Linked DNA regions of Homo sapiens: region 2 is linked to region 1. The links come from fine-mapping of genetic effects on gene expression. Tissue or cell type: blood mononuclear cells. Region 1 holds a variant in brackets; the other region holds the start of a gene. All regions are shown on one strand. Distances are between the middles of the regions.

Region 1 (4,379 bases):
AGACTAGATGTCTGAATGTTTCCGCATTTCTAACAGCTACCGTTCTTTTGTAAAGTGCTTGTTGTATCTCACAACTAGTGGGTTGGCAAGGTGTTTTAACAGGAAAACTGAAATAGCTGGAGTCACGGACAGACGCTGGCACAACATATTGCAGAGAGCTCCGTGATGGGAGAGGCATGCCCAGGTGCCAGGGATTCTTGGAGAGGCCCAGAGCCCCATTTAGCTGTCTGGAGCTACAAGGAATGCTAAAATCTTACTGAACCATATCTGAGAGCATGGCCCACTTTAACTCAGATCACTACACAGAGCTCATTACAGAGTGGTCAAAATGTGATCTGCACCCTTTTCCACAAAAGAAGACAAAGTTCTGAAGTAAAAATTAGAAAACACTCTCCCTCATTCTGTCACTACCCCCACTAAATAAGAGTTGAACAGGATTTAAAGGTTGTCAGCTTAGCCAGGCACAGTGGCAAGTACCCATAGTCCTAGCTACTCCAGAGGCTGAGGCAAGAGGATGGCTTAAGTGCAGGAGTTCAAGTCCAGCCTGGGCAACATAGCAAGACCCATCTCCAAAAAAACAGAAAGAAAGAAAGAAATTGTTGGCTGGGCACAGTGACTCATGCCTGTAATCCCAGCACTTTGAGAGGCCGAGGCAGGTGGAATGCTTAAGCTCAGGGGTTTGACAGCAACCTGGGCAACATGGCAAAACCCCATCTATACAGAAAATACAAAAATTAGCCAGACATGGTGGCACACGTCTGTGGTCCCAGGTATTCAAGAGACTGAGGTGGGAGGATCACTTGATCCAGGGAGGCAGAGGTTGCAGAAACCCGAGATGGCACCACTGATGTCCAGCTTGGGCAACAGAGCAAGACCCTGTGTTTAAAAACAGAAAAAGATTTTCGGCTTAAGAGATGCCAAATCCCTATCCTTCTCCTGGCCCCCATCCCCTGCAGGCAACTGTTACTGAGTCTCGGCAAATAGAGCGCTATAGGAATAGCTCAGGCAAACCATCAGGGCTGATCAACAGGAGCAATCACAGCAGTGGGCAGAGCCCAGCAATGGGAAAGCAGGGTCCACTACAGCAGAAGCCCTGGCAAGCAGGCCAGTAGCATCTGGGAAGGCAATCAGGGCTCAGGTTTAAGGACATCCACAAGGACACCATGAGACAAGTGCCAGTCAGAAGGGCACTGGCAGTAGTGGCTGCAGAATTTCAATGTAGGAAGAACTTACAGGGAGCATTTTGGTTGGAAAAGAACTAGAGAAGCTGTATTTGCATAATACTCTACACAAGACTGAGAAAATGTCGATTATCCGTGTCAAAAAATAGGGATACCATGGATAGTTGAGAGGAGAGCTAAAGCCTGCAGGACCAAGAAGTTTCCTGGATTCAGAATTCTCTGAGGTCATCCCCAAGCAGAATGGTGCATTCAGAAACCAGAACACACTGCACGGGGCAGGCTCTGGCTGGAGAATTCAGCTGCAGGTGCTCTGTCCCAGCAGACAGGAGGCAGGGGGACAAGGAGGGCTTGTTGCCATCCCCAGTGCAATGCAGCAGCTCAAGCATTAGCAGAGGGACTTGCATCCTTGGTTAGCAAGCAGATCCATGAGGATGTCTGGAAGTAAGGAGGGACTTGATAGGTCTGCTTAATTGCTTCCTGCCTCAAGCCCAGATTGGTCTGGGAAAGAGGCTGGGCCCAGGCTGCAGGTGGGAGATTGCGTGGCCAGCTGTGATGAACTGGAGAGGCTGAGTAAGGGGAAATAGAAAGGGAGGTGGGGGTGGGGAGAACATGCTGAAATA[G/A]ATCCCTGAATGTCCTGGGGCCGGAGCCGGGTCACTCAATGTGGGGGAGGAACTTCCTTCCCTCTTTCGTTATTTTCCTTCCTCTCTCTTCCTCCTCACAGGCAACCAGCTAGAGGCAGGATGAGCTGTCTCAAGGAAGAAGAAATCAAAACAGCCTTTAAATTACTGGAGGTCATGTCCTGTTTGAAACAACAACAAGAAAAGAGAGCAGAGTGCTACCTCTCCTGCAGAGACCTTGCTGCCATGATCTCTAGCCAAAGAGGTTACATTAGTTCCATCTTCATAGCCCAGGGACTGAGGCTTGAACCCACAAGTCTCTCTTTCTCACTCCTTTAAAGAAACTGCTAACCACTTCCAGGTCAACTGCTGAAAGTCATGTGTTTCTTTTACTGCAGACATTTCTGCAAAGCCTTCCCCTGAGAGCCGAGCACGGATGCAATAGTCCAAGAGGTGGTGGCTGGCGCTCTTTCATCCTTGACCCATGATCTAGAACATTTGGCTTAGAGCATAAAGAGGAGATTCCCAGCACAATAAAATAGCCAGGGAGGGAACATTATTATAGGTCCCCTTTTCAACTCAAATAGGTTAGGATTGACTGACAACCTAAGAAATACTCACCACTTTTTCATTTTCAGATCAAACATAACTGTCTTCAGAGTATAAATCCTCTGAAGCCTGCCCTTCTTCCATCCAGTCCCTTGGGTGGCAGGTATTAAATGACTACTCCATGTTCTCCATAGGGAGGCAGGATGCCTTGGCAGCAGAGCACACTGTTGTCAGTACTCAGAAGCGTCTGGAAGCCACCCTCATCTTAAAATAAAAGAATCAAGATTGAGCTTGGAAAGACAAAATGTAAAATCAGTGCCTGGAAAAATAGGCCAAGTCACCTTAAGAGTCAGAATAGTTCCATGAATATATCAATCATTTGCAGTGTTGAGTGGGGACGTAGCACAGCTGGTCAACCAGCCACAAGACTATGGTAATGACCATCCAGCACATCAAGGAGAAAGGGCGACTGCACTGAGCACTTGGCTGCTGTGGTTCCAACAGAATGTAGACCTATGAGGCGATAGGTGCATCCAGCTGATTATAGTTCAAGGGCATAAAACATGCAGATTTTTTAACTTACCAAGCAACCACTAATGATAATTGGGACCTCCTGTAGGCCCCCAGAGGGAGAGTGCACCAGCTAAGAGCCAAGAGCCAAGAGCACTGCTTGAGTTTCTTCAGTGGTTCTGGATCTTAAAAATGGGCTTGGTTGCTCAGTTTACAAATGAGTTCGGTTACTATAAGTCTGCCCTTCTGAGACTGAACCTGCTGAGAGAACAAATGAATAAAATTAAGCTTCTGAGCCGCAAGATTGAGGGTTTGACTCTGAGCCATGGAAAGTCCCTCTAGGCAATGCCTCTGTATAAGCAGCTGGAGAGATAGCCTACAAATCTTTCCTGAGCTCTGAACCTCTGAACCACCCTGCCATTGCTCTTTGGTGAAATCTGCTCCTACTCTTTCTGACATAAACTAACACAAATGAAACCAGCTCTTTGAATTGGGGGAAAAAACTTCCATACTTCAGAAAATAATATAAAACAATAAGTAACTGCTAAATTGCAGGGTTCGTGGGGAGGAAAGCAGGAGCAGCTGAGAAAGGGTTGATGGAAGCAGTGGGCTTGAGTGGGCCTTGTAGGTCTACATGGGTGGACAACTGATCCAGCACACTCCAGATAGGGATGGAACAGGGAGACCCAGAAAGAAGGTGAGACGACTTCACAGAGACAGTTCAGGTTTTGATGTGCTGGAACATGACACTGGAGATTAAAGGACTGAGCAGATCTTTCAGTGTCTGAAATGCCAGCCTTTTGCAAGTTCATGGAGCAGAAATGGGTCTCAGAACACTGACCCGGTAATAGTGCATGGGCTGCTCAGACAGGAGAGGGACTAGAAGGGGGAGAACCACTAATAATCAATGCAGGTGGGTGACGAAAAGGACTATTGCATTTATATTAAATTTCCTGAGGCCTGTCAAATTCTTCTCTCATTATACTTCCAGTATAGGTTCTTGGAATAGTGAGGGGAATATATTCAGTGTGAGAAATACAGCTATAGGGGTTGGGGACATTGATGCTAGGTCCAGGGAGCATTAAACAGTAAAACAGTGTTGCTGTTATGCAAATAATCACCAACCTTGCACTCTTGCATGAGAGCTCAGCTTGTCCAGAAAATGAAGTTTTATCTTTAGATTTGCAGAATGGAGATTTCTGTAATGTTTTTAAAGGCAATCCCACGGAGTTATCTGGCTTCCCTAGAATCACAAGAAAAGGACTGTCACTGGTAAAGTGGACTCTTCTGCACACTTTATTTTATTCCTAAATGGGCCAGTCAAGTCTAGGGTTGAGGTGGCCTTAGAAACTTTTCAGGGTCAGCATTCAGGCATCAACAAAGCAGTTCTGATTTAGAGAACTCTTGAGATAAGAACCAGCTACATTCATGATTTCCCAAACTTGGCCAATTTAGAGTAAATACATGCAAACAGTCTTGTAATTGTGATTCCAAATTTTCTGATTATGCCAGGAATAAAAAT
Region 2 (4,379 bases), 45 kb after region 1:
TGTAAGTTATCATCGCGGAGCTTTTAGGCACTTGGACCTCAGTAAAGCATTTTCCTGCTGGAGAGACATACACACAGACCTTGGTCTCCCGTTAGGTTTCCTTTACTTAACCAGAATACATTTCTTTCCTCAAGAGGCATGTGGCAGCACCTTTTTTTTAAAATCCCGTATACCAAAAATAAGACCACATATTGTTTTTAAATGCTTTTTCTCAAAATAGCAATGGACAAATGTGAAAGCTACCTGATCTGAATCAGGGCTGTCACAACTTTTGAAGACCTCACAAATAATAGGTATTTTTCCAAAAGATGCACTAGCTCAATCCGCAGAGAGCTGGGGTGGTGAATTCACTGGAGAAGATTCTATGTGCATTCGAAAATGTACTGACAGGGAACTGCACACACCACACACCGTTCTCTCCCCACCCCCAAAGAAAAATCAGGCAGCTACTGCACCAATCCTGGCCTTCAGCCGCTGCTCACTCTTTGCCAACCATTCAGAGCCCCCACTAGGTCTAGGAGATGTACCTTTCCCTCCTGCCGTATGCAGCATTTTCAGGTGATCCACGGTCATCTGCAGGATCTCGGCTTTTTCTAGCTTAGCAGATCCCTAAAGATGAGAATGGCAAAAGATTGATTTGGCACAAGTTCCTTTGGGGAACAATTTAAAATATGCAAACATATATACAAAGATACATGCTTTGTAAATCGTAAAGCATGGACTAAAGCAAAATCAGTTGTCTTCACAAAATACGCTGGTATCTGTGTACGAATTCATCTAGGCACAAGCAACACAGCTATTTTCCAAGGCGGATGAGATTAATGAGGGGAAGATTCAGAAGGTGCAGATAGCTATGCTGAGAGCTTTACCTACTTGCTCCATTACCTGCTTCTCAAAAGCACTGGGTACCAGCCTTCTCAGCTCAGACAAACTGTTATTGATCCGGTCTCGTCGGCGCTTCTCAATTATCTGCAGAAGGCAAGCAAAACAAAGGAAGGCATTACCATTACGACTGTAAATTTCAAAGACAAAAAAAAAGGTGGTTATTTCCGTTAATCAATAACAAAAATAAAAGGAGAGTGTAAAGAGACTCACTCCTCTCCGTCTTTTTCTGGCCAAAATCTGGGAAGATGTAGTTGGGGACATGGAACCTAGAGCCGAACTCAAGTTTCTGAAAAGAGAAAAAGAACAAACAAAAACTGAAATCGCCGTTAAACGAGGAGAGGTGATCTGAGAGGTCGCCCCCACACCCTCCCCGCACTCAGACTTTTTTTGCCACTTGGGCTGGAAGGCACCTAGGGGTTCCCTGGCCGCAGGCTGCCGCCAGCCTGCGACGCGCGGAGGTCAGCGCAGGGCACCGGCGCGCCAAGGGTCCTAGCCCGCTGTCACCGCGGCAGGCCTGCGCTCGCCTCCCGCTCTGGCTCGGCTCCGCTCCGCCGCCGCCAGCTCACCCATTCTCGTCCGCACTCTCCTTCTCCACCTCGATGGTCTCGTCCAGCTCGCTGTCCGAGGAGCTGTACTCGGGGTGAGCTCGCTTCATGCTGGCTCCCTGGGGGTTCCTGGGGAGGGTCGGCGCGGCGGGCAGGGAGGAGTTAACTACAGCGGCGCCTCTCCGCTCTCGGCTGCTTGCGTTCCGCACACACTGATCCCGCTCACGCTTTGCCTCTGGTTAAAACTCAACCATCCTTTCCCACGCTGAGCCCCTTCCCAGGGCCCTGGGGAGGGCGGGGGAGTGGGGAAGGCGGGCGAGGGGGCGGAGAGGCGGGGCGGCAACTCCAGGGCAACAGCCGCCCCCCGGCCAATCCGGTTTCTCGCGCCGCTGATTGGCAGCCGCTCCGGGGAGGGGCGGGAGCGAGGCCGAGGGCTCTAGCGGACCGCGCCCCCGCCCTCCGCGCCCGCCCCTGCCCGGCGGCGGTGCGTCGGCTCCGCGGGGGCTCTGTCCAGCCTGCACTCAGGGGAAGGAGGAGGCGCGGGCGGCGGGGAGGCGCGGGAGGCCGGGCCGGGACACAAGCCCGCCGGCGGCCGCGGCTCCTCCCCGCCCCGCGCGCCCCGATTGGCCTGGCCGCGCGCCAGGGCCGAGCCTGCAGCGCCTCCGGTGAGCCGCACGCGCCGCGGGCCGTGGGAAAGTGCCGGCGCCGCGGCCGCCAGCCAATCCGGGCGGCCGGCGACGGCGACGGCGGCGGCCGCGCTGGCGGCGGCGGCGGCGGCGCTGGGCGTCCGCATGAATGGAGAAGAATGGGCAGGCGGGGAGCCGGGCCGCGCGAGGGCGCGCCGGCGGGGGCTGGGCGGCCGCCGGCCGGGCCCCCAGTGTGAACCTGTAATCGGAGCCTGGGCGCCGGCCGGCCTCGGAAGCCGCCGCCTAGCGCCACCGTAAATCTCGCCCGCGTGGCCGCCAGTGCCCGGCGGCTGGAGGCGCGCGCTGTTAGTGGGGCCGTGCCGGGTGCACCTGGCCGGGCTGCGCGCCGGCGGCTCCGCGGAACCCGCAGGGAGCCGGGAGAGGGGGCGCCGGGCGCGTCCACAGTGGCCACCAGCCCAGGGGCCGGTCACATGGAGGAGCAAGCTGTGGGCTCAGGGGACGCTCTTTTTGATTTCTGGGACCGAGGCCGCACATGCAGCCAGACTCGTTTCCGCAGGGGCTTCCCAGCCGCGGAATGGAATGAATACCCCTGTGCATCTCATTTCCGGGGAAGGGGAGCACTTGTTTTTTCGGCCGCCTTGGGGAAAAAAAAACCCAACGGTCCCTGGGAATAATCATTATGCTGGGATTTTTTTGTTGTTCCCCCGCTGCCCCCCCCCCCGCCCCCTCCCCCCGGCGGCCAGATCCTCTCAGCGGGCGACAGGGTGGCGGTGCTGGCGTTTGCGTCTGAGGCCGGCCTTGCTGAGGGAATGCACGTCTCTGGCCCCAGACACACACCTCTGGCTTCGGTGGCTTGGCGTGGCGTGTACTGGGTGCCACGTGAAGTCCCCCCCGAGTCCACTAAGAAGACAGATTTTTTAAAAAATACAGTTGTAAATCTCGAAACTGATTTCTGATTCCAGAAACAGAATGGTTGTTTTAAATTTGAAAATCCGGTCTTCTGTCCCTTACAAAGGTACACAGCAATTCGCATTCATCTCAGATCCACTCTGAAGCTTGTAGTCCTGTCTGTGAGGGAAAGCTTAATATCCATCGGTGAGAATAACAAAAGGCGTTTTCTCTTTGCAAAAAGCTTCCTGGTTTCTAGACTTCCTTATTGATCTCAATGCTATTTTTTTTTTGAGATGGTGTCTCACTCTGTCGCCCAGGCTGGAGTGCAGTGGCGCGATCTCGGCTCACTGCAACCTCCGCCTCCCGGGTTGAAGCAATTCTCCTGCCTCGGCCTCCCCAGAAGCTGGGATTACAGACGCGCGCCACCATGCTCAGCTAATTGTTTTTGGTATTTTTAGTAGAAACGAGGTTTCACCATGTTGGCCAGGCTTGTCTCAAACTCCTGACCAAAGGTGATCCGCCTGCCTTGGCCTCCCAAAGTACTGGGATTACAGGCCTAAGCCACCGCGCTCGGCCTCAATGCCATCTTAACACATCCTGGATGCCAAGCACTCTGAGTGGCCGGCCTGGGCCTAATCCATAGTTCCTCTCTGGGCACCCCCATCCCTCCACCACCGCCCCCAACGGGAAATACAACCTCCTGGCTCCCACTGAAGCTTATTCCACTTCACATCACCTCCAGCCCTGAGCCTTTCCATGCAGCCCCTCTGCTTCCCTGTCTAGGCTGGGCCCTTCCATCAGCCAGCCTGGGTTTGTTGCTGCTGGCACCCCAGACCTCTGGCTTCCTGAAACTCCACCGCATGCTGCCTGTTAGTTGTCAGTCCGAGGTCAATCCCACCAGCCGACTTTCTCTCTGGAAGTGCAAATTTTAAGGCTCCTTCCTGGCCCTCCCAGTCTTCAGTCCAGGGCATCCATCACTACTTCCTGCCTCTTCCCTCCCAGAAACTGATGGTCCAGGCATAGGAAACCATCCCACCTGCTCCCCTCTGCCTTCCAGAAGTCCCTCTGACCTTCCATTTCTTTCCCCAAAGTGACAGGCCACCCTTCCCCAGAACCAACGTGTCTACTTCCCCTCTGGCTCTATAGATTTTCCCAGCCTCTGGCACCTACAATGAGTCAGCCTTTCCTGCTTTGGCTCATTTCTGCTGCTGTGGAGAGGCGTGGACAAGCTGCAGATGTTGAGTGAGACGAGACCGGGTGGGGTTAGGGATGCTTAACTCTACATTGGCATCCAAATGAAATATTGCTCACATGTTCATGATTACTTTTATGTCAAAAAGGAGGTTCTCTACGGCCAGGCGCAGTGGCTCACACCTGTAATCCTAACACTTTGAGAGGCTGAGGCAGGAGG

Evidence for each region.
Region 2: it holds the start of HEY1, and the variant in region 1 is fine-mapped to the expression of HEY1 in blood mononuclear cells (TOPMed, PIP above 0.99).

Annotation. Positions count from the first base shown.
Region 1 is chr8:79,721,607-79,725,985 of GRCh38, forward strand. LOC124901965 (a long non-coding RNA gene) reads right to left here and starts at 2,606. Exons shown (of 2, transcript XR_007060975.1): 1 at 2,420-2,606. It overlaps LOC107986893 (a long non-coding RNA gene), which reads right to left. Exons shown (of 3, transcript XR_001745722.1): 2 at 3,983-4,100; 3 at 2,745-3,115. RefSeq lists an enhancer at 1,511-2,710. The variant G/A (reference allele first, on the strand shown) is at 1,802.
Region 2 is chr8:79,766,124-79,770,502 of GRCh38, forward strand. HEY1 (hes related family bHLH transcription factor with YRPW motif 1) reads right to left here and starts at 1,644. Exons shown (of 5, transcript NM_012258.4): 1 at 1,452-1,644; 2 at 1,096-1,171; 3 at 886-969; 4 at 528-609. The coding sequence starts at 1,540. It overlaps LINC01607 (long intergenic non-protein coding RNA 1607), which reads left to right and starts at 2,019. Exons shown (of 4, transcript NR_125410.1): 1 at 2,019-2,095. It overlaps LOC101927040 (a long non-coding RNA gene), which reads right to left. Exons shown (of 6, transcript NR_110954.1): 6 at 3,249-4,379. RefSeq lists an enhancer at 1,167-1,216 and silencers at 1,667-2,146, 2,187-2,546, 2,647-2,816.